Regions from separate parts of the Homo sapiens genome. Here region 1 is linked to region 2. Evidence: fine-mapped expression QTL. A gene starts in region 2. The other region holds a variant in brackets. All regions are shown on one strand. Distances are between the middles of the regions.

What was found. PIP is the estimated chance that this variant, and not a neighbour inherited with it, causes the effect.
Region 1: its variant is fine-mapped to the expression of FAM20B in T cells (TOPMed, PIP 0.98). The same link has a PIP of 0.9 or more in skeletal muscle.

What each region holds. Positions count from the first base shown.
Region 1 is chr1:179,063,861-179,079,882 of GRCh38, forward strand. It overlaps FAM20B (FAM20B glycosaminoglycan xylosylkinase), which reads left to right. Exons shown (of 8, transcript NM_014864.4): 5 at 67-238; 6 at 445-636; 7 at 2,940-2,999; 8 at 8,053-12,707. The coding sequence ends at 8,284. Among named protein-coding and RNA genes, the nearest start is that of TOR3A, 10 kb to the right of the region's middle. The variant T/C (reference allele first, on the strand shown) is at 9,232.
Region 2 is chr1:179,019,405-179,035,426 of GRCh38, forward strand. It overlaps FAM20B (FAM20B glycosaminoglycan xylosylkinase), which reads left to right and starts at 6,490. Exons shown (of 8, transcript NM_014864.4): 1 at 6,490-6,694. It also overlaps the pseudogene RPS26P16. RefSeq lists silencers at 6,307-6,496, 6,537-7,276, 9,970-10,264 and an enhancer at 9,326-10,201.

The DNA.
Region 1 (16,022 bases), 44 kb after region 2:
ATTTGGGAGAGAACTTGGAGTCTTCGTTATTTCCTTAAGTGTATTTGGCTCCTTTCTGTCCTTTAGGAAACAATACTTGTTTTTATGGGAAGTGCTATTACTGCCGAGAAACAGAACCAGCTTGTGCTGATGGAGACATAATGGAGGGATCTGTCACACTTTGGCTTCCAGATGTGTGGCCTCTGCAGAAGCACCGTCACCCATGGGGCAGGACTTACCGAGAAGGCAAATTGGCCAGGTAAATGCTCCTATGAGCCATTACTTAATTCTCCCCTGTGCCTAGCCAGGTGCCAACTCTGTAAAGGAGCCAGCAGTTCTGTCCAAGAGTGAAAAGAACTGTGGAGTCAGGGGCAAACCGGTAGGTAGGAACTCTGTCTTCTCTTTGTGTGTAACAGTGCCAGGTACAGTGTTGTCACTCAGTGCTGTGATGCTGCTTGTCTCCAGGTGGGAGTATGATGAGAGCTACTGTGATGCTGTGAAGAAAACGTCCCCTTATGACTCTGGCCCGCGCCTCTTGGACATCATTGACACAGCTGTCTTTGATTACCTGATTGGCAATGCTGACCGCCATCACTATGAGAGCTTTCAAGATGATGAAGGCGCTAGTATGCTCATCCTTCTTGATAATGCCAAAAGGTGAGACCAGCAGGACTGTCCTTGTCAGGGAGGGGTTTCTGTATATGAAAGAAGGGCATTTTCCAGAGCATCCTGGAGAATATCCAGAATGCAATTGATAGGCAACATCCTTCTTTTTTCCACTTGGAGTCTTTGCTATTGGTACCTGTCCTTCTCTCCACTCTCAGGGATCTCAGTACTTCAAAAAATGGAAAAGTGGTTCTTCCAAGGAGTCTAAGACTCTATGAGCCTCTTCTCAGACAACTGGAAAACCAGGGTTATTCATTTGTTACTACCTACATCGTTCTTTCTTGGCTATGATATTTGGTGTTTAGAAGCTTGAGAAATACAGATGTAATAGAGTGTGGAATTTGTCGTTAAATTTATTCTATCCAAAGGTTCCTGCAATTAAAAAATTAATTTATTTGGTAGGATGTTTTGCTATTTTTGTGTTTGTCTAGGTCCATACTTTTGCTGTCATGGGAAGAAGAGCTGTTGCCTAGTGTGGATTTTATATATAACAACAAGTTACTTTTATCTTGAATAAAAAATGTTTATTCATTTTGAATAAATAGAATGTCCTTATTTTTTTAGGCCTGAGCTATTTGGAGAGCACATTGTATTTCCATTTCATATTCTGCATTCTCTGTGGTGGCCGGTTTAGTGCCACACTTTTTTTTTTTAAGTTTTTTTGAGACGGAGTTTTGCTCTGTTGCCCAGGCTGGAGTGCAGTGGCACAATCTCAGCTCACTGCAACTTCTGTCTCCTGGGTTCAAGCGATTCTCCACCCTCAGCCTCCTGAGTAGCTGGGACTACAGGCACTCGCTAATTTTGTATTTTTAGTAGAGACAGGGTTTCGCCATTTTGGCCAGGCTGGTCTTGAACTCCTGACCTCAAGTGCTCTGCTTGCCTCGACCTCTCAAAGTGCTGGGATTACAGGTGTAGTGCCACACTTTTAGTTGCATTTAATAAATATTTACTAAATAGAACGCTTCCTTGGAGTACAGAATTTTCCAGGCCCTAGGTCACTACTGTTAACATTGGTTGTTGGAAATAAGCTAAGACATGGCTCCTCAGCAAAGAGTGCTTGGGCAGCATTTGCTAATGATGCCACCATCTTATACTGAACACCAGGCGCCTCATGCTTTGTGAAAGATGGTGATGGCCACAGAAAATGAAAAACCAGCAAACACTGCCTCTCCCTCTACCCCATTACAGCAAAGCACATAGCACTCATCCTGTGATACACATGATACTTGATATTTGGTGTATATCAAAATAGTTGCTTTGTCCACTCGGGCCGCTATAACAAAATCCCTTAGACTGGGTAATTCATAAGCATCAGAAATGTATTGCTTACAGTTTTGGAGGCTGGGAACTCTAAGATGAAGGTGCCAGCAGATTCAGTGTCTGGTGAGGGCCTGTTTCTCAGATGGTGCCTTCTATGTGTCCTCATATGGCAGAAGAGGTAAACACGCTCCCTCTGGCCTCATTTATAAGGGCACTAATCCCGTTCATGTGGGCTCTTCCCTCGTAACTTAATCATCTCCCAAAGGCCCTACTTCTTAATACTGTTGGACTGTTGTACCAGGGATTACGAATTTGAGGGGGACACAAACATTCAGACCATAGCAGTTGCCTTTGCCTTGAATTACTGGAGGACCTACACTGTACTAAGGGCTACCAGACTCTAGCTATTAAGGTGAGCCTCTGGAAAGATTGAAAGGTTGACAGTTTTCCAGAATCAGTTCTCCTTTTCTAACTCTGAATTGCTGCTAAGGTAATTTTTGCATCTGCTGTGAATCAGTTTCCTCAGCCTGTGTGAACAGTTTTTCCAATTTGAATCTGTACTTATACTTACTTGTAGGGAATAGGATATTGCTAATTTGGGAGTAGAATAAGTGTGACTTCTTTTTACAAGTAATGGTCATCTGCTTGTTTGTGGGAATCTAATATAAATGGCTTTTATTTCTCTCTGGTCCTTAAAACCTTTGCAGGCTTAGGGGTCTTCAAGTTCTCCCTTTGGTCTGTGAACTCCGCACTGTGTTTACCATAGTTATGCTCCAGCACCTTGTGATATCTTGGCAGGAAAATGTCCCTTGTAAATGAGTATATTTGTTGTCAGATATTTTAGTACAGGCTGTTAGGGATCCTGTGTCTAATTGGTCATGCCCCGCTTGTTTTCAATTTAAGTGATTTGAGCTGCTGGAGCGTGAAATTATCTAGGATCACATTTGAGTTTCATATAGAATTTGCTATTGCTTTGATGCTAAGAAGAGAACAGTACTTCCACCTAATTCACTAAGTTTTAATTTAATTTTCAGCTTTGGGAACCCCTCGCTGGATGAAAGAAGCATTCTTGCCCCTCTCTATCAGTGTTGCATGTAAGTTATGCACAGCAAATACATGTGCCTGCATTGCCTTCTTTTCCAGGCTCAGGTAACAGTACATCCATTTTCTTGGCCCTCAAACTTTCTGATACCTGAGCAGTGCTTTTCATACTTTTCCAACCTAGAACCTCTGGACATCCTGAAATGGGATATCAGGGAAAGGTGAAGGCAGATAACCCAAAGCTCAGAATTCATCTCAAATTTTGTATGAATAGAAGATTGTATGTATACAGTAATACATGTTTGGTTTAATAGCAGAATATAATCACCCACACTCCCCACCCCACTGCCAAAAAAAAAAAAAGGAGTAAAATCTGTATGCCTGGTTACTACACCTGGTTACCTTGTGGTTTTAACTCCTCTCACTCACCCATCACATACCACCTGGGGTTTACATATTTCAGTTTGAAATTGTCTAAACCAAAAGTAACTTTTTCCATAAATAATAATTTATTTTGGCCAGGCACAGTGGCTCACTCCTGTAATCCCAGCAATTTGGGAGGCCAAGGTGGGTGGATCACCTGAGGTCAGGAGTTCGAGACCAGCCTGGCCAACATGGCGAAACCCCGTCTCTATTAATAATACAAAAATGAGCCGGGCATGGTGGCAGGCACCAGTATTCCAGCTACTTAGGAGGTTGAGACAGGAGAATTGCTTGAACCTGGAAGGCAGAGGTTGCAGTGAGCCGAGATTGTGCCATTGCACTCCATTCTGGGTGACAGAGTGAGACTCTGTCTCAAAAAAAATAAATAATAAATAATAATTGGTTTTTTTAAAAAAACTCTGTATTAGAGAACAGAGAAATTGAAAAATGAGTCAAGAAAATGAGATAAAGTCTAAGCTCTAAGAAGCTTCTTTTCATCATTCCTGAAATAATTTTATTTTACTATTTTATTTTTTATTTTATTATTTTTTTGAGACAGGGTCTGCATCTGTCACCCAGGTAGGAGTGTGGTGGTGCGATCTCAGCTCACCGAAATCTCTGCCTTTCGGGTTTAAGCAATTCTTGTGCCTCAGCCTCCCGAGTAGCTGGGACTACAGGCACCTGCCACCAAACCCAGCTAATTTTTGTATTTGCAGTAGAGACGGGTTTCACTATGTTGGCCAGGCTGGTGTCAAACTATTGACTTCAAGTGATCCGCCTGCCTCAGCCTCCCAAAGTGCTAGGATTACAGGCGTGAGCCACCGCGCCCGACCATCCTGGTGTAATTTTAGAGCACGCACATCAAGAATTAGCTGGGATCCACCTTGCTTGGCTACACAGAAAAACAAGTTCAAGAGCACCATTTAATACTGGTCAGCTCCCAGCAACATCATATCACATAAGACTGCCATAGCAACTGGTCTCTTAATCTTCTTTCTTTTTTTAAATGACAACAAAATTCTGTAGAAAGTAACAGTTTACCCAGGCTGTCCTTCATTGTCTTTATTAATGATAGGAAGCAGTGATATATACAATCAAGAATTGTGTGTTTGTCTTTGAAGATGTTTTTGTGGTAGTAGTTTTATCAGTCTGGTTCAATCAGGAGATAGCAAAGACATAGTGTGATAAACAGAGGTGTTTAATATAAAGAATTTTTTTTTTTTGGAGATGGAGTCTTGCTCTGTCACCCAGGCTAGAGTACAGTGGCGCGATCTCGGCTCACTGCAGCCTCCACCTCCCATGTTCAAGTGATTCTCCTGCGTCAGCCTCCCAAGTAGTTGGGATTACAGGCGCCCCTCACTGCATCTGGTTAATTTTTGTATTTTTAGTAGAGACGGGGTTTCACCATATTGGCCAGGCTGGTCTAGAACTCCTGACCTTGTGATCTGCCTGCCTCGGCCTCCCAAACTACTGGCATTACAGGCGTGAGCCACTGCGCCCGACCCAATATAAAGAATTATTAAATTCCAATAACAGGAGTGACTATAAAAGGGCTGAGGGAGAGTACCCAAGGAAGGACAAACTTGGAAGGGGATCCCCTCCCAATGACTGGAGTTTGGACTTCAGTGGAGAAGGTTTAGCTCAGCCCACCAGATAGCAGAGAAGTTTGCTAGTTTGCAGGTGCTGAGCAAGCCAGAAGCAACTCTCCAGAGTGCAGGTGGGGTGTACATTCAAGCCACAGCTGGTGTCATGACATGCAGAAGGAGAGAGAGAATCCAGTAGAAACCTTCTGTGCTGCAAGTGAGGCACACACGTGGGCCTTCAGAGGGAATTGGGGCCAGGGTGAGCAGATGGCCTTCAAAGCTCTGGTTTCCATGTTGAGAGGGCCTCGGGAGAGTTATCCCCAGGCCAGGCTAAGGCTTCAGGTCACCAAGGACCCACACCTTCTGGGAGTGTGGCTAGACAGGTCTTCAGTGGATGACCTCTCTGCCTCCCCAACACCACCATTGACCCACAGAAGCATTTGGAGAGCCCCTTCACCCTGCAGTGTCCCCTTTGCGCCCTCTAGTGAGAATGCTTTAGGGGAAAGATGCTTAAAGGAATCCCATCCGTCGTAGCAGAGCACATTTTGTTTTTGTTTTTGTTTTGTTTTGTTTTTTGAGATGGAGTCTCGCTCTGTCGCCCAGGCTGGAGTGTAGTGGCACGATCTCGGCTCACTGCAACCGCTGTCTCCCGGGTTCAGGCGATTCTCCTGCCTCAGCCTTCTGAGTAGCTGGGATTACAGGCACCTGCCACCACGCCCAGCTAATTTTTTGTATTTTTAGTAGAGATAGGGTTTCAACATGTTGGTGGGGCTGGTCTCGAACTCCTGACCTCAGGTGATCCGTCCGCCTTGGCCTCCCAAAGTGCTGGGATTACAGGCATGAGCCACCGTGCCTGGCCAGCAGAGCATATTTTGAAGAGTGAATTTGGAGCTGAGAGGAAGTAACATAATAACTTAGTCTCACAGAGGAAGCTCTGATGCTCTGGGCATTTGTAATATATTTAAGAATAAAAATAACTGTACTCCGTCTGTGCCTGTTTGTCCCTTCCATGCATGCTTTATGCAGCAGTCTTTCTTACCTTTTAAATTGCTGCACAACAGGCTGCCTTTTACAGAATCAGACATTTCTGCATACCCAGTAATTCCTCCTTTACCCACAGAGAGCTAAGAACTTTTCTTCTCAGATTTTAAATAAAAGATATGCTATAGTTGGTGTCTTAGTTCGTTTTGTGCTGCTGTAACAGGATACCACAGACTGGGTAATTTATTTTATTTTATTTTATCTTATTTTGAGATGGAGTCTCGCTCTGTTGCCCAGGCTGGAGTGCAGTGGCGCGATCTTGGCTCACTGCAACCTCCGCCTCCCAGGTTCAAGTGATTCTCATGTCTCAGCCTCCCAAGTAGCTGGGATTACAGGCATGTACCACCATGCCCGGGTAATTTTTGTATTTTTAGGAGAGATGGGGTTTCACCATGTTGCCTAGGCTGGTCTCGAACTCCTGACCTCAAGTGATCTGACCCCTTGGGCCTCCCAGAGTGCTGGGATTACAGGCATGAGCCACCATACCTGGCCAGACTGTGTAATTTATAATGAACAGAAATTTATTGGTTCACAGTTCTGGAGGCTAGAACGTTAAATATCAAGGTGCCAGCATCTGACAAGGGACTTATTGCTGTGTCATCATGTCACATGGCAGAAGGCAAAAGGGCAAAGAGAGAGGGCAACAAGGGGCTGAACTCGCCTTTTTTTTTTTTTTTTTTTTTTTTTTTGAGATGGAGTCTTGCTCTTTTGCCCAGGCTGGAGTGCAGTGGCACAATCTTGGCTCACTGCAACCTCCACCTCCCGGGTTCAAGTGATTCTTGTGCCTCAGCCTCCCAAGTAGCTGGGATTACAGGCACCTGCCACCACGCCCAGCTAATTTTTGTATTTTTAGTAGAGACGGGGTTTTACCATGTTGGCCAGCCTGGTCTTGAACTCCCAACCTGAGGGCCCACCTCGGCCTCCCAAAGTGTTGGGATTACAGATGTGAGCCACCGCTCCTGGCCTTGAACTTGCCTTTTAATAACAGCATTAGTTCCACCCATGAGGGCAGAGCACTCATGGCCTAACGACCTCTTAAAAGACTCTACCTTGATACTGTTACAATGGCAATTTCAACATGTATTTTGTAGGGGACAGACATTCAAATGGTAGCAGTTGGTGAAATAAGGCAGATAGGTATCCTTAAAATAATTTTTTCCGCCAGGCGCAGTGGCTCACGCCTGTAATCCCAGCACTTTGGGAGGCCGAGGCGGGCGGATCACGAGGTCAGGAGATCAAGACCATCCTGGCTAACACGGTGAAAACCCGTCTCTACTAAAAAATACAAAAAAATTAGCCGGGCGTGGTGGCGGGTGCCTGTAGTCCCAGCTACTCAGGAGGCTGAGGCAGGAGAATGGCGTGAACCCGGGAGGCAGAGCTTGCAGTGAGCCGAGATCACACCACTGCACTCCAGCCTGGGCGACAGAGCAAGACTCTGTCTCAAAAAAAAAATAATAATAATAATTTTTTCCCAGTAGAAATTATTTTAGACTTCAGAAACACATGAGGAAGAAGGAAGTTTATAGTACCCATTAACGTCTAAGGATTAACGTCTAAGGATCCTCTTGTTAACACTGTAGTGTACTTCATTCCAATCCATGTATGTGTATTTTGTTTTCCTACAGATTTGAAGTGAAACAGGTTTTTCCTCCAACCTCTTCCCCCCACCCAGCATCATATCATAGGCATTTTCCCATTCCACTAAATTTTCAAAATTGTTTTTAACAGCTGCATGGTATTCCTTTCAATGGATGAACCATAATTTAACTATTTCCCAGTCGTTAGACATTCAGATTGTTCAACATTTTTCCTGTTATAAACAGCACTGCAGTGAACATGTGTGTAAATCTCTGTATATATCTCTGATTAGTTACACAGAAACAATATCAAAACATAGTAATGTGGCTTACTCATTATGTAGGGGTAATTCTAAAGCAAAAATTATTTAGTTAAAGGATTTTACCTAATTATTTTTTCACTTTTGTCTGCCTAGCAGGCTTTCAACTCCGTTTGATAATGAGAAGTTTTATGTACCTTGTTCTATAACTTTTTCTCCCAGCATTCGGGTGTCCACCTGGAACAGACTGAACTACCTAAAGAATGGTGTGCTAAAGTCTGCCTTAAAATCTGCCATGGCCCATGACCCCATCTCCCCAGTGCTCTCTGATCCTCATCTGGACGCCGTGGACCAGCGGCTCCTGAGTGTCCTGGCCACCGTGAAGCAGTGCACCGACCAGTTTGGGATGGACACAGTACTGGTGGAAGACAGGATGCCTCTCTCACACTTGTAATTCTCGACACAAAATAAGTGAAACTTCTTTTTACAAAGATAGAGAAACAGCACAATCAATTCCAAATGGTATGAGATGGATTGGAAGTGGCCAGCAGCAAGTTCTGGTGACGGGACAGAGTGGCCTTGGATGTCTTTGGTATTTTCTGTAGTAGAAACTAAAGCAAAGACCACAAGTTTCAGAGCATGGAGACATTCCTGCTGAATCGCCTTCTCACCTCCTCGGCAATTGCTCATTCTAGGGTTGGGCATCATAGTTGGTCAGTCTTAATTCCCATGCCAAAGGACAAACAGGTGTGACATTTGGATAGATGAATACTGGGATTGGCTCTGGAGCATGTGTTTTGAGTTGAACCTTGCAGTCCTTTCTCTACGCCCGTGGATTTTGTGGAAACACTTTGCAATCTCTTTGTCTTTTTTTTTTTTACCAGAACTAGTTACATTGGAATGCTTACTGTCCTACAGAGTGGCAGCAAATAAAACCTTGCATTCCATCAAGCCAAAATAGCACACTCTGTTAGAGGAGATACATGTTTAAGATAGAATTGGAGGGAAGGACAAAAACAGAAAAATGTTTGGGCTTTTAAGCCATTGGGTAGTATTGTTTTGATGATCTTAGAGGAGGGAAGAAGAGAGAGAGACCCAATGGTAGAACCAGAATCAGGGAGATGACTGAACTACTGAAAAACAGGTTCCCTTGTATTTAGGATCTTAAGGTGTATAAAAAGCAAACATGACTTTGCACCTAAGTAAATTCTGCATTCTCATAGTTGTGTCCCAATTAACCAAAAAGTTGTCTCTAGAGAAAATACTATTACAATCTAAGCATGATTCTCTGTGGAGACTAATTTTTTCCCCTTTTGCCAAAAGCAGTCCTTCCCAAATTAACAAAGCAAACTGAAATAATACCTTGAATAACAGGTTGCCTGTGGTCTCTGTCATCCTCGT[T/C]TCTCTTCTGAAATGAATTTCCACCTCTGCCTTTAAGGCATTTTTGTCACTGAAGCTGCTGTTCCCAAGAGATCGGCAACCTTTTTGTCCCTTTCTCATAAGAAAGGGACACTCCTACAGGTGAGAGTGTATACCTTACTCTCTCAGATAAGTGGCTGGACTTATCTTGTGATTTGGGGCCATGGAAGATTGGAAACAAAGATTTTAAGCCTTCTTCTTTTTTTCTTTTTTCTTTTTTTTTTGAGACCAAGTCTCACTCTGTTGCCCAGGCTGGAGTGCAGTGGCACGATCTTGGCTTACTGCAACCTCCGTCTCCCAGGTTCAAGCGATTCTCTTGCCTCAGCCTCCAGAGTAGCTGGGATTACAGGCGCCCGCCATCGTGCCCAGCTAATTTTTATATTTTTAGTGGAGACAGGGTTTCGGGTTTCACCATGTTGGCCAGGTTGATCTTGGACTCCTGACCCCAGGTGATCCACCTGCCTCAGCCTTCCAAAGTGCTGGGATTACAGGCATGAGCCACCGTGGCCGGCCAAGATTTTAAGCCTTCTGAGCCTTGAAATTGAGGAGGTTAAAAGGAAGAGCCTTAAGATTTTGATTTATGTCAAATCCTAATTCTATCATTCAGTCTTGTTTGGAGTTCTGAACCCATGATGTTGTATTATGCTTCTTTCTCCTCTTAGCACTCTCAAATTTCAGGTTTGTAAAACACAGTTTTTGTTTTGTGTTCTGGCAAAGTGATCTCAACATGTAAGTAGTTGCAGTAAAACACAGGGGCAAAGGAAGACAGGCCTGATGTGCCCACTCATCTATGGACTCAGAGCTGTGTGCTTTGCTCCTGCATCTTGTTGAGGTGCTGTTCCAGCTTTGCATTTCTGTCAAGTAGAGGCGAATATATAAACAGTGTGGTTGAATACATTTAATGCCAGCCATTGGAAACTAGTTTTAGGCAACCACTCTCAAAAACAGCTTTAGAATTTATGCCCAGTTTTCTTGCATTGAAAGATAACTGAGTAATAACCTGTAACTATTTTTAAATGGCATGAAATTAGGAAACTTTTGTACATTTTATATACATTTTGAGATGAACAGAACAATGGGCTGAGTTATAAAAAGCGTGTATTGAATTTAAGAAGACAGACTAGCACAAAACACAGAATTCGTGTTAACCAAAGGAGGCATTGATTTCAGTTTTAAGGCTACTCAGTGTTGTGTGTCCAGGGAAATTCACAGCTCAGTATGAGAATACCTTGGTTAGTGCTCACCCACAAGCTTCCAGGAGCCAGCTGGGAGGAGACAATAGGAAGAGATGTCATCTCTGCTCTCCCTGTAAATGTTAGTTGAACTAAGTTATGGATTTGTGGTCTTTCAAATACATGACGCCTTTAGTATGCCACACTGAAATGAATAAGAAGTCTTCTGAAACTGGGAACTTCATAACATTGAAGGCAGAAGATTCTGCTAAGGAAAAAAGCAGGCAGGAAAGAAAATGTCTCATCCTTTCTTGAAAGCATTTGCAGAAAATATATCATTTCATTTTATTCCCATCTGTTTTCAAACTCGTGATCTTAAAAGGCATTCTGATGATAAATTTAGAATTTTCATCTATAAAATTTAGAACTCTAATCCATAAAGTTAGAATTGAGCTAATAGAGTGGTATGACATGGCACTAAAAATATAAATTTTTGTTGTAAGTCAGGATTGGAGTAAGCTGGAAAAGTATGTTTAGGCAAATCTTGGAGAAAACCAACCATAAACTTACAGCTCTAAAATTCAGAAAGCCCTAAAATTTCAAACACTGTTTGAAAGAAGAGGTGGGGGCCGGGTGCCGTGGCTCATGCCTGTCATCCCAGCATTTGGGAGGCTGAGGCAGGCAGATCACCTGAGGCCAGGAGTTCGAGACCAGCCTGGCTGGCTAGCATGGTGAGACCGTCTCTACTAAAAATGCAAAAATTAACAGGGCACGGTGGCATGCGCCTGTAGTCCCAGCTACTCGGGAGGCTGAGGCAGGAGAATCACTTGAATCCAGGAGGCGAAGGTTGCAGTGAGCTGAGATTGTGCTGCTGCACTCCAGCCTGGGAGACAGAGCGAGACTCTGTCTTAAAAAAAAAAAAAGGAGGTGAATTTTTTTTTAAGTTTTGTAACACTGTCCTACTTTATTTATTAGAATCTAAGGCTGTTACAATCAAGTCGTTGCAGGGTTTGGATCAGCTGTAAGTTAGGTATGCCTACCAAACATCCAAAGGTAGACGTGGAGACATTTTAATACTACAAAACTAGGAAAATCAGAACTCATGGCCATTTCCTGCCCTCCTCCAACTTGTTAAAACATGTTTATTCTAAAGTTCGAATGGATAAATTTGAGTATAAAGGTTTTGTTATAAAACTGTTCTTTAGTGTAAGGCTGCATTGTGGGTTTGGGGGAAATGTAAATAATTTTCTGTGTAAAACAAATTCATAGGATCTGATTTGCTCAGAGTATTATTCAAGAATGTATTAATAAGGCATTGCCCCCTGTTTGCACTCAGGGTTAATATGTCAAATGAAATTTAAGAAGGAAATGGAAGAATTCAGGTACATTAATTGCATATTATTTTGGGAAAGATGAGTCCTATACGTGGCAATTTTTCAATGTCATCTGAAGCCAGCATTATCTTCCAAAGAAATCGATCTTTTTTTTCTAAAAAAAAAAAATGCTTTTGCCTTCCCTTCCCTTCCCATCCGCCATATTTCTTCAGCCTTTCTTCTCGATCACCCGTGTATTCTTTGACCAGTAAATGACCACACCTCAATGATGGTAAAACAGCATCATCAGTAAGCTATCTTATATGCCTCATCCTGTGAGTTTGAGCTTCAGGAAACATGAGTAAAAGTATATGTAATGTATATAGTCGTATATGTATTCTAGCAAGAAAAACATATTTATTTTGACAAAGGGGAACACTGACTTTCTGAAGGATTCAGAAAGAACCTTAGTGAAAGGTTCTCAGTCTCTGAGAGTGGACCCTAATTAACATAAAGACCATTCATCAGCGAATAACTACTGAGCAACTCTAGTGTGCCAGCACAGGCCAGACATACTAGTGAGCCAGGCACATCTGGCCTTGGGAAACTCATCCTACAGGGGAAGGCCAGTTTTTTTCCCTTCAATTCCTCAAGTCTGGGTGGTGACAAGGTAGGGGCTAGGTACTGGACTACCACAGGTTTTTAGGAACTAAGGTGTTTCTCATAAACACAAAATGTTGGGTGAAACTGGGAACAACTACTCAGAAGCTCATTTATTTGCTTAAATGGAAAGTGTGGGAGCCACTACCCTCTCTTTTGATCTGCCAAGGATTTCCTCTCAGAGCTGTTGCACAGACAGAGATTGTACTTGGTAAGATACCAAACAAGACAGATATGGATCTAAATTTCTAATGTGTTCTATGGGTTTCAATTCTGAAAAAAGAAAATGAATAAAGATTTTAATAAATATTGATATCTGATCTTTTCCTCTTCTTTCCCCCTTCAGGATATTTCCAGTGGTTCCTATTTCAGTTCCCTTCCTGTTAGGGGACAGAAGAAGATTACATCTTTTGTGACCACTTAAACTTCCACAGGGATAGTTTCACAGTACCTGGTGGATTAGACCTTTAAATTTCCTCACCAGTCTTCAAACGGTTCATACTAGATTGTAACTATACCAAAATTTTCTATGGGATCATTGTTAGGTGCTTTTTGTATATTTAATAGTTAACTCCATTTTTGCAGCTTCCTTAGAGGTAAAGAATTATGAATCCTGAAGAACTTGTCAGCACACTACAAAAAAGGCAGGAAGAGAAGGCCAGTTGCCCTAGTAGTACTTCTTAGGACACCTAGATTTTTAACTTTTGAAATAGAATCCAGCATCATAAACCTCAACCAGGTAACTGAGCAAAGCTCTTAAGATTTTTATTGGGCCAGGCACCATGGCTCATGTCTGTAATCCCGGCACTTTGGGAGGCCAAGGCCCGTGGGTCACCTGAGGTCGGGAGTTTGAGACCAGCCTGGCCAACATGGTGAAACCCCTTCTCTACTAAAAATACAAAATTAGCCAGCTTGGTGCATGCCTGTAATCCCAGCTACTCTGGGGAGGCTGAGGCAGGAGAATCGCTTGAACCCGGGAGGCGGAGAGCTGGGATTGTGCCATTGCACTCCAGCCTGGGCAACAAGAGTGAAACTCAGTCTCAAAAAAAGAAAAAAAAAAAATAGCTGGGTGTGGTGGCAGGCGCCTGTAATCCCGGCTACTCGGAGGCTGAGGCAGGAAAATTGCTTGAACCCAGCAGGCGGAGGTTGCAATGAGCCGAGATCGTGCCATTGCACTCCAGCCTGGGCAACGAGCGAAACTCTGTCTCAAAAAACAAAACAAAACTATTTTATTTGCAGCATATTTGTGCTAGTTTTTGTCATTTGTACATGAATACATGTGGGAGGCTAGTAGAGCCTGGTCTGTGTATCTCACTGACTCACCACATACAAATTCTTTTCCAGGCTAGAGTTCAGGATTCATTTGCTTCTCAAGCATATCAGAACGACTGGTATTAGAGTTTGAAAAAGGTAGCTGGGAGTAGGGAGGGCGGGGCTCTGTTACTGGGTAATTTTACCTAGTATGTTTGCTTATTAGACTGATTTTTAGCAGTCGTCATTTTGTAAAATAGATAGGAATGGTCATAGCCACTGGATTTCCATGGGTAGGGTTTTGTAAGGTAAGTTGCAGTATAAGCCCCAAGGAATAATGGTATTAAATCACAATTTGTGAGATATTTGGTCTGTCATCAGTAGATCTGTGGGCCATTGTGCTGCAAGCTGTGGTATACCATTGAGATGATAGTGACTGTCTTTTCCCTCAAAGAGCCTGCAGTCTAGACCTGGCAGAAAAAAAAAAAAAAAAACTGCTTGTGAGGCACCAAGTCCCTCAGGAATTATATAAATTAATTGCAGTGAGAATAAGAAACGGGAGAGGATCATGGAGGTGGGGATTGGGAGGGATTGGGTTAGGCAGTACCTACATTGAAAAAGTGGAGATTGATCCAGGCTTGACGAGAGGTGTGTATAGAACCCCTGACTCCGGAAATGCAGAACTATTTGCTTAGTGGATACAGGGCCTTCTGGGCCTGTATTTTCAGTATCTGGGTCACCAGAAATATCGCTTCAGGGGTTTCTCATTGTTCTAGGAAATGTTTGTGTGCCCTGTCTCTTGAGGACATTCTCAGTCCACCTCAAGTGCTGTGTAGATGTTAAAGGAACATAGATGAGCTGGGAAACATTCCTGTAATGTTTCTCATGCAGGGTTATTTAAATATGGAGACTTGCGTTTGTTTTGTTTTTGAGACCAAATCTCACTGCAGTGCCCAGGCTGGAGTGCAATGGCGCGATCTTAGCTCACTGCAACCTCCGCTTCCCAGGTTCAAGCAATTCGCCTGCCTCAGCCTCCCGAGTAGCCAGGACTACAGGCGCATGCCACCACGCCCGGCTAATTTTTGTATTTTTAGTAGAGACGGGGTTTCTCCATATTGGCCGGGCTGATTGGTCTCAAACACTTGACCTCAAGTGATCCACCTGCCTTGGCCTCCCAAAGTGCTGGGATTACAGGCGTGAGCCACCGTCCCAGGCCGAGACTTGCTTTTGACCCAGTGTTTCCAAGGCAGATGGTTCTGATTGCCTTCAGTGGGGTTGGGAAGATGTCTGTTGTAAAGCTAGGTCATACTCAGATGACATCAATAAAGGTGTTGTGTGCCAATTTTGCCTTAGGCTTTTTTTTTTTTTTTTGGATTGACAGTCTTGCTTTGACGCAGGCTGGAGTACAATGGCACAATCATCGCTCATTGGCAGCCTCGAACTCCTGAGCTCAAGTGATCCTCCTCCCTCAGCCTCTCAAGTAGCTAGGATTATAGGCGCGCACCACCACACGCAGCTTATTTTTTATTTTTATTTTTGGTAGAGACAAGGGGTCTAGCCTTATTGCCCAGGCTGGTCTGAAACTCTGGCTTCAAGCCACCCTCCTGCCTCAGCCTCCCAAAGTGCTGGGATTACAGGCATGAGCCATGGCTCCCTGCACAGAAAGACCTTCTTAAAGTGCAGGTTTTGATTCAGTATGTCTGGGGCCTGAGATTCTGCATTTCTAACAAGCTCCTGGGTGATGCCAGTGGTGGGGTTCTGGAACCGCCCTTGAGTAGCACCGTAATGCTTGCTAAAGAATCATAGTTGTCTGTAGTTTTCCCAGCAGCCTCTAGATGTCCCCGTCATCCATGAGATACTGCTTCCAGAACTTTAAAACGAGCACAGCCTCCAAGGCCTGAGACGGAAAGGAGTATTTATTGAAATACTCAAGAGACGTATCTAGAAACTGGTGTTTGGATTTATTGTTTCTACACGGGACTGACTCTTTGGTGAAAAAGTGTTTACCTCTTTTTTTTTTTTTTTTGGAAAAAAACGGCCAGGCGCAGTGGCTCACGCCTGTAATCCCAACACTTTGGGAGGCTAAGGCAGGCAGGCAGATCACCTGAGGCCAGGAGTTCGAGACCAGCCTGGCCAACATGGCGAAACCCCGTCTCTACTAAAAATACAAAAAAAAAAAAAAAGCGGGGGCGTGGTGGTGAACGCCTGTAATCCCAGCTACTTGGGAGGCTGAGGGGGAAGAATCGCTTGAACCGGGGAGGCGGAGGTTGCAGTGAGCCGAGATTGCACCACTGCACTCCAGCCTGGGCGACAGAGCAAGACTCCGTCTCTAAATAAATAAATAAATAAATAAATAAATAATAAAAATGTCTTGAAA
Region 2 (16,022 bases):
TGGTGGTCACATTAAGTGAGACCCTTTCTTTCTTTCTGGTTTTTTTTTTTGTTTGTTTGTTTCTTTTTTTTTTTTGAGATGGAGTTTTGCTCTTGTTGCCCAGGCTGGAGTGCAATGGCACGATCTTGGCTCACCGCAACCTCTCACTCCTGGGTTCAAGTGATTCTCCTGCCTCAGCCTCCCGAGTACCTGGGATTACAGGCATGTGCCACCATGCCCAGCTAATTTTGGATTTTTAGTAGAGATGGGGTTTCTCCATGTTGGTCAGGCTGGTCTCAAACTCCCGACCTCAGGTGATTTGCCCACCTCAGCCTCCCAAAGTGCCGAGATTACAGGTGTGGGCCACTGCGCCTGGCCGAGACCCTTTCTTGTGCATTGCCATGGTGAAAATACCAGCCTGGTATTACCATTTCTTTCAAAGCGTTGCTAACATCTCTGAAAATCCTAGCACACTCCCTTCAGTGGTCCCCTGTACTCCCTTGCCTGAGGGATCTCCCTGCCTACATGCCATGCCTCCTTATTTCACCCATGGGCCCCAGAGGGGTACAGCAGCCATCAGTGAGGTACTGGTTCTTTCTCCCTGGGCTTATAGTCCCACTGTGTTGAGTACCTTGTCTTCCTCTGTTCGGGTCACCTCCCTGTGCCACAAACATCTACCTTCCAGGAAAGGATCACAAACTGTAGGACTGAAGACTAGATTTCAACCCATAGATGTCTATGATTTGGCCTGCTCTGTGTATGTGTGTGTATACACACACACACACACACACACACACACACACACACACACACTTAAATGTAAATGCCTTTGAAGGAGGGACCAGGCTCTCTGGTATGTCATGTTCCCTCAACCCTTCTGGTTGCCTCACCTTTGGCCTGCTTTGCTCATTTCCCTTCATGCCTGACAGCCACAGGCTTCTGTATGTCTAAGCCCCACTGGAAGGAAAGATGTAGGGGGTCTGGTCCACCAAGGGGCAGCATCTGGACCAACAGGGCACTGGCTTTCTTCCTTGTCACATCTTTCTCATCCTTGCTCACAGCAGGATGAGCGCTTGGAGAGATGGCTGGCTTCCTACAGAAGGTTACCAAAAGACCAAGCTATCTTCCCTTGAAAATAAAACCCAATTGCCTGTATATTAGATTGAACTATATAAAATTGTCCATGTTCAACTTTGCCCTATAAAGATGACAATTTCACATGATTCAACCTATTAACATGGCCCTGGCTTAGTCGCTAGTAGGACAATGGTTCTCAGCCTTGGTTGCAAATTAGAATAAACTGGAGGTTTTAAAAAATACCCTTGCTAGGACCTCACCACAAGACTATTAAATTCAAATTTTTGCAGATGGGGGCAGGCATAGAGCTATTTAAAAAGCTCCTCTGGGCTGGGCACAATGGCTCAAGCCTGTAATCCCAGCACTTTGGGAGGCCAAGGCAGGAGGATCGCTTGAAGTCAGGAGTTTGAGGACAGCCTGGCCACTGTGGCAAAACCCCATCTCTACTAAAAATACAAAAATCAGCCAGGCATGGTGGCGCACGCCTGTAGTCACAGCTACTCGGGAGGCTGAGGCAGGAGAATCGCTTGAACTCAGGAGGCAGAGTTTGCAGTGAGCTGAGATTGCACCTCTGCACTCCAGCCTGGGCGACAGAGGGAGACTTTGTCTCAAAAAGAAAAAAAAGCTCCCCTACAGCCAGACTGATAATTGTCCTCTAGCACATCCCTCGGCCAGCCATGAGAAAGGCTCAAAGAGCCTTCTGCTGAACTCCTTACCACATTATCCATCGATGGTAGAAGCTTCCTGGCTTTCCAAGCAGGGTCTCAAAGAGAAGTCTGAGGAACCCAGAACTTCCATGTGACTGCAATTACTTCATGCATTGAATTGAGTCAATAAAAAACAGCTTCCATCACAACAAAAAAAAAATGTGTGTTAAATACCAATATGCCTGTGGTACCATCCTAGGCATATTACAAAAGTATTACCTTGTGGGAATTAGCAATCTGGAATTTGCAATTCTCTCTCCACCCAATCCCTTGAAAAGCCATATGTGGCATTAGAGAAATTCATAACAAACTGGAAAATGTCAAAGATGTGGCCCTGGACATTTACTGAAGCGTATATGCCACAACAAAGTGTACACTTTGGGGTAGTTAAACAAATTTCTATAGCCATACATGACAGTTAAGTGATACACAGCTTTGAGAGCCATAACTCCTCTGCATTTCTTACTAACTCTAGAAATCTAACATATCCATTAATGTATTTTTCTTTTTGCTTTTACTGTGCAGATTTAAAGAACAAAATAAATAGGTAAATATATTTTCAGAATAAAAAAGAAAACATCCCGTATTACTTTTGGGGGTGATGAAAATGTTCTAAAATTAGATTATGTTAGTGGTTGCTCAACTCTGTAAATATACTAAAAGGCACTGAGTATATTTTAAGCAAGTGAGTTTTGTGGTATGTATATCTCAATAAAGCTTTTCTTAAAAATAATATTGCTAGAGTGAAAAAATAACCGAAATATTCCCACCACTTTCAGAATCCACAGCCCGAATGTCTCAGCAGAGAAGCTGGGTGTGCTGTGTATGTATGTAGCTTATGATGCTGTCCCTGGGACGTGAGTTGTTTGCTCAGATGGCATTGACAGGGGTGCCACGTGATGGGGTAAGTGGGCAGTCCGTTGCTATAAGCAAGAGGCGGGCTGGGAGTAGCTCTGCAGATCTGGTGGCAAAATGAAAGAAAGGAGTTTTCCCTGTTAGGAAAGAAATGCAGAAGCAGCTGTCCACAGACAGCCCAATGCAGAGAACAAACCTGCCTGGGAAGCAGCTGAGGCAGGGCACATGCTCCTGGAAGGAAACAGAGAGATATGTGTGCTCCTTTACTCGCTAGCCTTTCCCGTCACCCTCTCCCCAGGCTCCTGGCACCTTGGAACAGCGTGAGCTTTCCTAGGGCTCCTCTCGACTTGCTTGATGTAGAATTAATTTAATTAGTTTCAGAGGGATCCATCATGGTGGCTGTGTTGCCTAGGTTAAAAGAAACTCTGTGTGTGTGTGTGCGCGCGCGCGTGTATGCATATATATTTTGCCTTCGTGTATGCAAAAGCACCTTGAGACAATATCCTCCTTCTAACTTGGGATTGCTGGACTGTTATTGGAGTCCTAGGGCTTGACAAATTGGCAGAGACTTGGAAATTCTGAAACAGTTTAAGGAAAATGCTTACAATGATGAAGGAACCAAGAAATAAGTCTCTGGGGCTCAATTCCCTGCTCTGTAGTACATGTTCTCAAACCTTCCTTTCAAGCATTGCATGGCTACCATGGGCCATGTGCAGTGTTAGTGCTACAGAAGACGCAGATGTCAATACAACCCGGGGAACGGGGTCAGACAGATCCCCAAAGACTTCAATACACCCCACCGCAAGACAGTTACAAATAAAGTGCTGGGTCTCAGAAGCCAAGGAAAGCATGTGCAGTTGTTGGGAAGGCTATGAAAGGCTTCATGAACAAGCAGCACTGAGAGCTGTATAACATTTTTACAGGTGGGAGTGAGGTGGATTTCCTGGAGGAAGAATCAATGTGATCACAACCATGAGGGCAGGGAAAGGACAGCAAGTGAGCCCCTTAGGTTGGAGGATAAGGAATTAGCAGAAAATGGTCCTGAAAAGGTGACTATGGCAGTAAATGCCAAGCACAGGTGTCCCTATTGAATTCCGCAGGCCACGGACAAGCCTCTGGTGGGTTCCACACTGGGGCTAATTCCAAGATTGGGGTTCCACATTGGGGCTAATATCCATCCTTCTGCTAAGGATGCCTACCACCCTTGGCTGGAGGGGGACAGCCAAATTCCTGCTCTGGTTTTAACTCAGTGAGCTTCAACACATCAATGTGGAGAAGGTACTTCGTATGAGGCACTCTACAAGTGGGAATAAAGATGAAATAGTGTATGTCTTTAAAAATCCTTGCAGTTTGGGAACAAGGAAGAAGGGCAAAGAGGAGATTAGACAACGACATGTAGAACCATACATCGTATGAGTGGTAAAAGGAGCATCACAAGAGTCTTGACAAAGTGCTCAGACCTCCTTAATTGGGGTTCCTGCCAGCTTCTCAAGAATGGGAACCAGGCTTTCTTCATCTCTGCATGGTCTGGTAGCTCAGTGCCTGGCACTTGGTAGACATTCATTAAATGAATGAATGTATGCATCAGTGAATGAATGAATAAACAAACAAATGAACAATTCTCCTGTCACGCAGGATCTGCTGAAGATGGCGGCTGTAAGTTCACAGAGCACTGCCTAACTTTGGTTCATATTGTTCCTCTCTTCTCCTACCTGTATTTTGCTCACCTCAATACCAGCCCACACTGTTTTCCTGGACTGTGATTCTTTCAGTGATCACAGAGTCTGTGCTGCATAATTTAAGTGTCCCTATTCCTTGCAGCTGCTTCCTGTGTGCTAGTCATGTAAACGCCCTTCTTAAATGATTGCATCCCTCACAATACTTAGAATATATTGACTGTTGATTGGTTGGAAAATAATCCCGTACAGGCGGAGGGGGCAGAAACTGACATCATGGAGTGTCAGGCACGGTGCTGGTGCTATGCATACACTCAACAAGGGCCTGGGTAATGCAACATGGAGAAGGGAAAACTGGGGGGCAGAACAATTTTGTCGTCTGAAAGCCTTTCACAGAGAGGCCCTGAACCCATAGCTCTCCTTCTCTGAGGACAGAAAAGGAGGAAGTGTGTCTGTCCTGCAGTATGTGGGATGGATAGATGGATGCGAAATTAAGCACTGAAGTGGGTTGCTTGGAGAGGCAATGACTGCCCCCTGCCCTCACCTGAAAATCCTTAAAGACAGAAGGGATCATCCGCCCAGGAAGCTGAGGCTGCAGGATAAGCTGGCCTTTTCCTGAACAGTGACAGTTGGAGCGTTCACCCTCACTGTCCTTGTCAGAGTTACAGGCAAGAAAGGAGAATCCTTTTGGATAAAGTGTCTTAAAGGAACTGTTGATTTACCCTTTTGCTTTATGGTCTCCTGATGTAGTGAGCAAGGTTCAGGGAGATTAGCTAACTGCAGGCAGACTGATCTTCCTGTGCAGAGAAATAAGGTAGATTCTCATTATCTTCCAGCTCATTTTCCCAAGAATTATGTATTCTCCGGCCAGAAAACGACCTCCAAACCTCCAAACCTTTTCAACTACACGCAGCAAAAAGCTAATACAATGCCTTCTGCATTTGACTGTACGTCTCCTGCAGTGATTAATGCTGCCTCCCTAACTACATTGTCCGGAGCAAGTGTCAAGCCCAATTATTTCTCTAGGATCTCCTGATAGTAAATGCTCAGCAAATATACAGACGAATAACACCTAATCATACACAATAATCTTAGAGTACTTTCCCCATACATTTCCTAACTTAATCCTTACAACAACCCTGTGAAGTTATTAACTCCCATTTTCCAGTTAAGGAAACTGATGCTCAGCAAAGTTAACTGGCACATCCAGTATCATACAGCCAGTAAGAAAGAATTCTGTTCAGTACGCCTTACTGATTAAATGAACTATGTGGCCTGAAGAAAAAGTGTCAGCTCAGTCTTTCCCCATCACGCATCTTATTCCATGGAGTAACCTGCATTATATTTCAGGGTCAGGCACACTAAGTTTGCGCTTTAGTATATGGTGAATAAATGGATGGACACAGTGGCGGCTCTGTATAAGTCAGCTGAAAGCAAACAAAGGGAAGGCAGAATCTTTCATTCACACGATTTATCCGCGCCCACTGGGTGCACTACGGTCGGGCATTGGCGACCCAGGAGCGACTGACCTGCCCTCATGGGGCTTACGGTCCTTAGCAAAAAACAGATGTAAAACAACTAATATTACAGTAAATGAATCATAATTTTGTGAGATGCTCCTGAAAGTATGTAGCAGGACGCTCCGCTCTGGTCCGAATGAAGAGCCATTTGCACTCAGTGTGGAAAGGCTAGCCTTTTTCTGGGCAAAAGAAGCGGGGGATACATTTAGATAGGCAGAAGTTCCGAGCAGAAGTCAAGGCAAATTAAAAAGGCAACAGGAGGAGGGAAAATGCTTCTCACAAACAGAACTCGACCTAGGGGACCGCAACTCTCCAGTCCTGCTGCTTGGCTGCCTACCTACCTAAGAAAAGCAGGAAAGAAAAAGAGAAGACGGGGTGGGGGATGGAGGACAAATACAGAAAAAGAAAAAAGAGCGAAGGAAGTGAGAAGTGAGAGGCCAGTTTATGTAAGCGGGCAGGGCGGCGCGGCCGGCAGGAGACCGGCGCCGGCGCCGAGGGAGTTAAGCGGACGGGCCCGGTATGGAAGAGGTTAAGGGGGGCAGTCCGGAGCGGGTCCGGTAGGGGCCGCCTACTGGGCGGGGGCGGGGCCGCGCCGAGCGAGCGCTGGGATTGGCCGTCGGGCAGGCGCTACGCTAGGACGGTACCAACAGCCGGGGGCCTCGGAGGCGGGGGGGTGGGTGTGGGACTGCCGCTCTGCGCGGCGAGAGGTGGCCTGGGAATGGCCGGGCCGGGGGTGGGCCGGAGCCGCTGTGGCGGCGGCGGCGGCTGGGGGCGGTGAGCGCGGCGTGGGGCTGCCCCTCCCCGGAGGCGGCGGGGGCGGCCGGGGCCGCGCCGCACCGCACCGCGCGGGCGGCCATGGAGCGAGCCTAGGGCCCGACAGGTGAGTGGCGCGGGGGCGGGGGAGGGCGCGCGACCCCCGCCCCCGGCGCGGCGGGCGGGAAAATGCGGACCGGCACGCGGGCGGGGCACGGTACGTAGCGCGCGCCGGGCTGGGGCCGCCTGGGGGCGGGGCGCCTCCCTGAGGGGCCGGGCACCGGGTGCCCTGAGCCGTCCCCGAGTGGCTGCGGGCGGGTCCCGGGCGAGGGCCCGAGGCTTCCTGGGAGACCCGCTCGGGCCGCGTGTCCCTGTGTGCGGTCGCGGCTGAAGGGACGCGGCCTCGGCCGCCACGTCCCTGGCCCACCTGAGGCGCGGGCCCACCTGGGGCCGCCTCAGGCTGCCAGAGGTCCTTCTAGTGACCGTCTCTCGTCCCCTTGCGCGGTCCCCAGAGGCGATTGGCCCCGGTGCCTCTCTTGTGTTCCCCGGAGCGCCCGTTGAGGCAGCCCAGGGAGCGCGCCCTCGCGGGGTCTTTGCTGGGCCCGCCTCGTGGCCGGGAAGCGCGAGTGACCTGCAGGCCGGAGGCGGAAGGCGGGGCAACCGTGCCCGGGGCCCGCGGTCTCCTGGGGTCCTGCGCCGGGCGCTCGCAGAAGGGCACAACTTAACGAATGCTGTGTTAGCCCTCAGTGGGCTGCGCTTGAGATTTCATTTCCGGGTGTGACGGCCCCGCGATTAAGAGCGGACCGATACGTTTCCCTTAATGATGAATGTGAATAGTTGTCGAGCTGCGTCCTTGATTGTGGGTTCTGATAAGAGATTCATTCTAATCTGACTTCTGTTAACCTGCCAGTCTCCGGATAAGAAGAGAAGGGGTAGAAGGATGGATTGGAGGGAAAGTAGGGGTAACAGGGCTTGGTTAGTCTTAATGGAATTATTAGTCCTTTTAAAGACCATACCATCATTGGGATGGATAAGGAGTTTCTAATTTGGGAAAATGAGAGTTGCTTGCTATTGCGACTTGGGTCTAGTGCCAGATATCAGCATCTTCCCCACCCAGCCAGCTTCCCTCTGGAGGTTTGATTTCTCACTTGGAAGGGAAGTAGGAATGTGGGGTTTTTTTTAGCCTTTAGCCTTTAAACTGTAGGACTTTATAAATCTATAATCTGGTACAAATTACTATTGCCATTTATTAGCCACGCCTATGTTTTTTGCGTTGTAAATTCTTGCAAAAATTTCACTGGCGTTGATTTCTAAAAATCTGGTTAGAGATCTCAGTGTTCTTATGTATTACAAACATTCCTTGAGTTTATGCAGGATCTTTGAGCTAAGCTTAGAGCACTTCCTCAAATATGATTCGTTATCACGACTGTCTGAGAAACTGAGGTACAAATGGTAAAGATGCTAAATTATTTGCCCAGACTCATAGCCAATCTCAGGGAGATTTAAAATCAATGTATTCTATTAATAACTTTTCTAAAGTTTGCAAAGATGTTGGACTTTGGCCTCTCGAACCGTACAATGGAATCAGTCAGCAGGAGTCCCTTTCCCATTTGAAATTACTTATCAAAGGAGAATACAAAGGCACACACAAGTATAATTCAGACTCTCAGCCTCACTCATGATAAAGTGCAGTGATAAATATGGATACAGGTAAAAGATGATCAAGACATCTTGGAGTTCACAGCGTTTCTTTTCTGTGTGGTGAAAATGTGACATTGGTATGCTCTATTCGTTTCTCTAGAACTGGTAGGACAGTAGCTATGTTTTGGTGAATGAATGGAAACTAGAAAACACATACACTGCTTTTCTTTTTGGTTCTTAAGATTAGAGAAAAAACACATCACTGCTTCTATCATCTTTATTTTTATAATCTTTTATATCATGGAAGTATTTTATGTTAAATTGATAATTCCTTGACTTTTAGTTCATTCCCTTGATTTCCATTTGTAGATTCCAGCCCTTTCACACAGCCTTAAAGTTTCTGCTTCTTATCTCTTCTGAATTTTAAATTCCTAAATGAAACTTTCTGTTCCTTCAGTTTTAGGGCAGACTTCAGCTTCCCACACTTTGTGTGTCTATCATTTCATTGGTGTAAAACCCTAAAATCATTTCATTAGTGTAAAACCCTAAAGCCAGATACTTCAGCTGTTGAATTGATAACTTTTTAAAATAGCTAACCACAGAGGTTGTCTTTTGGTGATTGCCACAATCTCATAACAGAAGCAGGAGGGCGTTCTTTGTATTCTGTAAGAATACATAAAAAGACAGTTGGTCGGGCGCGGTGGCTTATGCCTGTAATCCCAGCACTTTGGGAGGCCGAGGCAGGCGGATCACGAGGTCAAGAGATTGAGACCATCCTGGCCAACATGGTGAAACCCCGTCTCTACTAAAAATACAAAAATTAGCTGTGCATGGTGGTGCACGCCTGTAGTCCCAGCTACTCAGGAGGCTGAGGCAGGAGAATCGCTTGAACCCAGGAGGCAGAGGTTGCAGTGAGCTGAGATTGCACCACTGCACTCCAGACTGCTGACAGTGAGACTCCGTCTCAAAAAACAAACAAACAAACAACAACAACAACAGAAGGAGACTGTCTTCTGAATCTGACTCTTAGTCCTTCTGGGACTAAGTGCCAGGTGGTTTTGTGGATTGGGATGGGGAACACAGTTACAATGAGGCCCTACAGTTTGTTGTAATTGTTACAGTAATCTGTGTATCTGTGTATTTTTCTCTCTGCACCTGACAGTGCCTGTATGTAGAAGGTGCACAATAAATATTCGTCAGTTGAATGAATAAATGGAAAACAGTATGAGGGAAGGGGAAATATTCTAATGTATATACTAAATTATTTAGTTCCTCTTTTTGTCAAAAGAAAAAAAAAGCGTAGAAAATGTGTTTCGGATTACTGTTCAAAATATTCTGTAGAGGTGTGTTATTTGCTTCTGTGATTATATGGTGTTCTAAACCACCTGGAGCCTGGCAGTAGCCTGTGCAGGTTCCAGTCAAGTGCAGCTTCACAACCTTGCTCCTACAGTCTGTTCTGGCTAGGCTAATTGGGCAGTTGGATTGATAGCCAGTGTTTTTGCATTAATAGAAGAACTTAGAGCTCTTGGCAATGGCCATGTCAATAGCATTGACCTGACTGCCCTTGTCCCTTATTTTGACGGTGGAAGAGGGGAGTTATCCCTTTTTAAGAGTACTTCTCCAGCAGTTCCTTCTTCTACACCTACATATATCTTCCTGTTTTCCTTCAGCTGTCTCTGTAACCCCAAGTACTAATGAATTCTTTAACATAGGCCTGGGCTGCAGAACAGAAGCTTACTTTGCTATTGAAACCAGCTTCTGACTAACTTACAATGTCAGCATGACTGCTCGAGCTGCCTAGAAGAGAAAATAATGCAAAGATCTCACTTCTGATTTGGTCTTTCTTACCAAAAACAAAAGAAGAAATGCCTAGCTTGGGATGTAAAGAATCTACATGACAGATGGGTGCGTCTGTCATCCCAGTGTGAGATAAGAGAAAAATGTAAGCTGATGCAGAAGAGACCTTGAGCTTTGGTGTGTGTTTAAGGTCTGTACTTTCTGGCAAGATAACCCCTTTAGAGAAGAGGGTGCTAACTTGGGCACGTTATAAAGGCAGGTCAAGGAATATGAAATTATGAATGTGTAAAGAGGACAGAACCAAGTACAGAGGGAGGCAGTGAAGTCTATCATTCCATGCTCTCAAATGTTAACTTTCTGCTTTATATACATAGCAATGCCTCATTTACCTAATGTTGGGGAGTAAGGTATTATATGTGAAAATTTTATTTTAGCTATACCTTTTGTGGAAAAATTTTTACAATATATGCTTTGGTTATTATTACTAGCATACTGGCAGTAGTTGAGTGAGGCTATGAGATGATCGAAAAATGTAGTTTGTTGTCCACTGTGCTTTTTGAATTATTGAATCTACTTGAGTCGATTCAGTAGTCAGTCTTTGTCTTCTTTCAGTGGTGGAAAGCTGCTCTTTTGCTGCTGTTAGTATCCTTGCTGCCCTCTTTTAAATTTGCAGCTTCTTATCTGTGGAGTAGGAGCTTCCTGACATTGAATGTAAAACAGCTAAATTGGCTTAGTTATGTTCTACCTGCTCTTCTCCAAGTTTTAGGGTATGAACTTTGTAACCACTTATTTTTGTTGCCCAGGGACGTTTTTGTTTGTTTGTTTCTTATCGTTGGTGTAGATAGTGAACGTGTGCTCTGTATAGGTGCATTTATGTTCCTGTAGTTTTCTGTAAAAAAAAAAACAAAATAATATGGAAGTACTTACTCGTGTGGGTTCTTGTTTCAGAAAGCACTGCCAATAATACTTGAAGATCTGATTTCAGCCCTGTCTTGTATCATCCTTGGGCAGTGTGTTAGACAACCTCCTTTCTTCCTTTTAGCATTTCCAAATTGTCTTTACTCTTAATCCCAGCCGATACTAGGAACCAGGTTGGCAATAGCAGTGGCCTTGAAAGGTGGAAGCAGGATATACAGAAGGTGGCAACTTTAAATTGAGTGTATATAATTGGTATACATATTCGCTATTTCTGCATCTTTTATATACTGTATACTTGAATTCATTGTAGGACTTATTTCCCCCTGTCTCTGAAAGAGGCAGTCTTTAAACCAGAGAGTTGCCAGTTTAGAAGAAATTCTTATAACCCTAAAGGTCTTTCTCCTTTGCCCTTCTCTCCTTTTATTCCACAAACACTTATCAGATGCCTCTTACAGGCCCTGCACAGTGCTAAGTTACTTGGAAGTACAAAGCGTGAGTAAAATCTATCCCATCCTCAAAAAACACAATATATTAGAAGAGACAGATGTGCCAAAAAAAAAAAAAAATGTGTGTGTGTGTGTTTGTGTGTGTGTGAGTTCATAGTATAACAGAGGGATCATGCCTGGAGCCACCTAGCCATAATTTCAGCACAGATCTGTTTGAGGTTCTCCTGCTTCTGAGAGTGATCTCCTGTGTGGGCTGTCAGCTTGACGTACCATAGAACATAAGGCTAAAAATGCGAGGTCTATTGTTGTATAAAGTTTATGTGGTTTTCCAAGAACTGTAGTGAATTGAACACTAAAGATGGAAAGCATATGAAAAGCTGAAGGAAAATGTTATAATATTTGTAATGCCGTATTTCAACACTATACAGGAATTACCTTCTATAATCTAGCCTTAAATGGTGGTTCTGTACTGACAGTTGTGCTGTGAAATACCTGGAACTTGGGAAGTGTCATTATACCTGGCTTATTTAAAGGAAAATGCAAATTGTTACTCATTTCCACGTAGTGTCAAGATTACTGCGTGTGTTGGTTTTTTAGAACAGAACTCGCTAGCAGTATGAGCTAAAGTTTTTTTCTTTTTCATTTTTCAAGGAAGAGGGTTGCCCTAAATCAAGGTTTAAATGGGACAGGTTGCAGAGATTGATTTTTTTTCAGTTCACTTATTGAAATTATTCAGTTATTGCCTATTTCATTTTTACTTTCACATCCAGCAAGAAAGACTACCTTAATGCTTCATTAATGCCTGGTAATGGTTTTAGTTGCCTTCCTTCAGAGGGAACTTGTTAGAGAATTTCATATAAGTGATTCTGAGTTTACAGATGTAAATAAATGTTTAAATGGAAGTGAAAACAGTAAGGAAAACCTGACACTTGGACCAATTTGGATTATGTAAGAATTAGATTTTCTACACCTGTACTCTTAAGTTACTCTTAAGGCTTATCTTAAGGGCTTTAGCACATGAAAAGCTGTCATCTTTAAAACACAGAACTAATTTTCCAAACTGAAAACAGTTGTGAAAGGCATTCTATTTTAGCCTTTTTTTGTGAAGTGGGATAAGTTCATGCTTCCCATCTGTTTCAGTTACATTGAGTGTGGTAGAATTGAACTTTGTAGAGAAGGGAAACAGGTTGGCCAAATTAGTGACAGCCTCCCAGTCTTCTGCTTTGCATGACACTCACTCTGAAGATATCTATTTGCCTAGTCTTATCTACCTCTCAAATTTAGGCAAGAATTTGGCTCAGAAATACAAGACTACTAATTACTACTAAACTCTTAGTAATGCAATGTGTGGATTTGGCCCCTCACTATGTAACTGAGAAGACAACATTATGGTATATTGATTCCAATGAGGGTTTTCTTTGTCATTTTTCTCCTCTCTGGAGGTCATCTGGGTTTTTGATATGGTGATAATGACTAGCAAGTGATTACTGTGGGTCATCCAGGCACTAATCTTAGCACAACACATGTAGAGGTCTCATTCTTTTTTTTTTTTTTTTTTTTTTTTTTGAGACAGGATCTTGCTCTGTCACCCAGGCTGGAATGCAGTGGCATGATCTTGATTCACTGCAGCCTCAGCCTCCCGAGTAGCTGGCTCATTCATTTTTAACAACCCTGTGAGTTAGGTAATAGTATTCTTGTTTCATTTTTTTATATGCAGAAACTGAGACCCAGAGAGGTCAGAAGTTAAATATCTTTCCCAAGACCCACATTAGGTGGTAAAGGAAGCATCCAGGCCTAGGCATTCTGAATCCAGAGGACATGCTTTTAACCCCTCTGCTACAGAAAGCTTATATTTAAAATAAGAAGGTGAATTAAGAAGCTATTTCTTAAGTGGATAATTAGCACAGAAAAGAAGAAAAAATATCTATAGATACTGATTAATGCTATTACTTAGTATTAGTTTTTATTTTTAGTTGAAGACCCTCATGTGAAGATGAAAGGAAGAATAGCATGCTGTTGTGGCAGGCAGCAAAGCAGGAGTGGGCTGGTTTTCCCAGGGTACTCAGCATTTACTGAGATAATAAACATGTAATGCTGTTTAATATTGGAGGTTTTGACTTTCTGGACATCTTGACTGTCACACAATACTAAAAGACTTCTGAATGCTCTTAATTTTACTTATCACTGCCACTAACCATCAGTAGAGACATTTATTTCTAGGGAACGGGGTGTAAACTCATAACAGTTAATAATAATATGCACAGTGCCCTACTGTCACTGCTAGTGAAAAATCAAAAGGGCAGTATACCAGACAGCCCACGGTAAAAGCGTGTGTGTGTCTAACTTTTTTTGCACTAAAAGATGTGATTTTTGCTATTTATGTTTTGGCTGAAGTACAAAAGTTAGGCTTTATAAACCGGACATGTGTCAGTGTGTGAATGTGTGAGGTTAGCCTTGATTGCTCTGCATAAGTCTAAGTAGGGCTCTGAAGTATGCAAGTGGATTTTAGTAAATGATCCAGTTGAGAATCTATTTCTTCTTGTGGTACCTTTAAGAGACTTTGTTAATTATGTATCTTTCTAAATATATACAATGAAAACAGAAAAATATAAATGACATGTAACTTTTATAATGAGTGTATTGCTCCTAGAAGCCATTAATAATAATTTACAAATATGACCTAACAATTTATCAAACCAATTTTTATTTGCACTTAATGGTTAATTTAGTGATTACTCCCTCCCTGAGATAATTGTTTTTAGTCACGTAATTTATTTCCCTATGTCTTCTCCCCTGGTATTTTTACTATCCCCAAAAGGAGTTGATAGGAGCAGAACAGATGTGAGAATGTTGGGTTTTACAAACTACCTCAAAATAATAGTGGGTTAAGACAATGATTTGTTATTTCTTTCTTTCTTTTTCTTTTTCTTTTTTTCTTTTGAGACAGTCTTGCTCTGTCACCAGGCTGGAGTGTAGTGGCGTGATGTCGGCTCACTGCAACCTCCGCCTCCTGGGTTCAAGCGATTCTCCTGCCTCAGCCTCTCAAGTAGCTGGGACTACAGGCATGTGCCACCATGCCCAGCTAATTTTTTGTATTTTAGTAGAGATGGGGTTTCACCATGTTGGCCAGGCTGGTCTCAAACTCCCTACCTTGGGTGATCCGCCCATCTCACCTCCCAAAGTGCTGGGATTACAGGTGTGAGCCACTGCGCCCAGCCTGTTATTTCTTATAATTATATAGGTCATCTGGTCTCACGTGTTCCTGCTCAAATGGTATAGGCTGGGGTCACAACAGTGACTACATTCTGCCAGACCACAACTGGGACTGGAATGTCCTTGAAAGTGTCATCTTCATGTCTGGCACTTCACCTGGGGTGACCAGGATAGCCAAGGGTTGGCTGGACCTCTCTCCATATAGATCACTTGGCATTTGGTAGTCTTAGCTTGAGCTTCTTTACATGGTAGCTAGATCCCGTGAAAGTGGAAGCTGCCAGGTCTCTTAAGACCAGGGCCCAGAACTGGCACACAGTCATTTCCACAACATTCTATTGTCAAAACAAGTTACAAAGCCAGCCCAGATTCAAGGGGAGGAAAAACAGACTCCACCTCTTTCTCTCTCTCTCTCTCTCTTTTTTTTTAATAATGGAGACAGGGTCTCACTGTGTTACCCAGGCTGGTCTCGAATTCCTGGGCTCAGGCAGTCCTTCTGCCTCAGCCTCCCAAAGTGTTAGGATTACAGGTGTAAACCAGCATGTTTGGCCCTGACTCCACCTCTTGATAGGATAAATTGTTAGTGTCTGTCTTTGCAGACAGTCTACAAAAAATTCAAATTCAAGTCTTACCTCCTATACTCACCAAACCTTCAGAGTTTTAGTCAAACCAATAATTACCAAAGTATTTTGTTAAAGGATCCTTGTAGTTCCTACTCAGGATCAAGGGCAAAGAGATTGTGTGCATAAATATAATTCTATACCAGTTAAGAAATCCTACCCCTTTGCCTCAGATCTCTTTTGTTGTTAGTCCTCTGCATGAAGCATTCTTACTAAGCATTTCCTTTGTGGTGCTTTGCATTTACAAGGCATGTTACATTCTACTTAAGTCATAAGAACCTGATTTGACCATTAAATTAGAAACACAAGAAGTGAAACTTATGTTTACTTTTACCATAACTTTCACTTTTAGTTGCTATGAGCAGAGGTTGGTATTTATTTCTTCTCTATGACCTCAGAGGTAGTATTGTGAGCTTGTCACTTAATCAGAGGGTGATTCAAGGGGACACTTCTAATAAGGCTTGGAATCTCATTGGTGGCTTGTAGGACCCTCTAGTAAGGTAGTAAGCGTTAAGGCCAGGTGTTCTCATGTTCCTTGGCAGCCACATACATTGAGATTTATCACATGATCTGTAGACCCCCACACCAACATGCTTTTCTGTAAATGTTCCTCCACCATCAGCCAGATTTTTTTTTAAGTACAATTTCCATTGTATTTTTCTCCAGAGAATGGTCTGTCTTCAGTCTTTAAGGACTCAGCTCCTTACACGGGCTTTGGTGGGGGTCGTGGGGCAGCACCCACAGGTCTAAATCGGGGTAGGGGTGTTCGGTCCTCGTGGGCTTCATGAGATTGATTCCTGACTACTTTGCTGTGAATTGCACA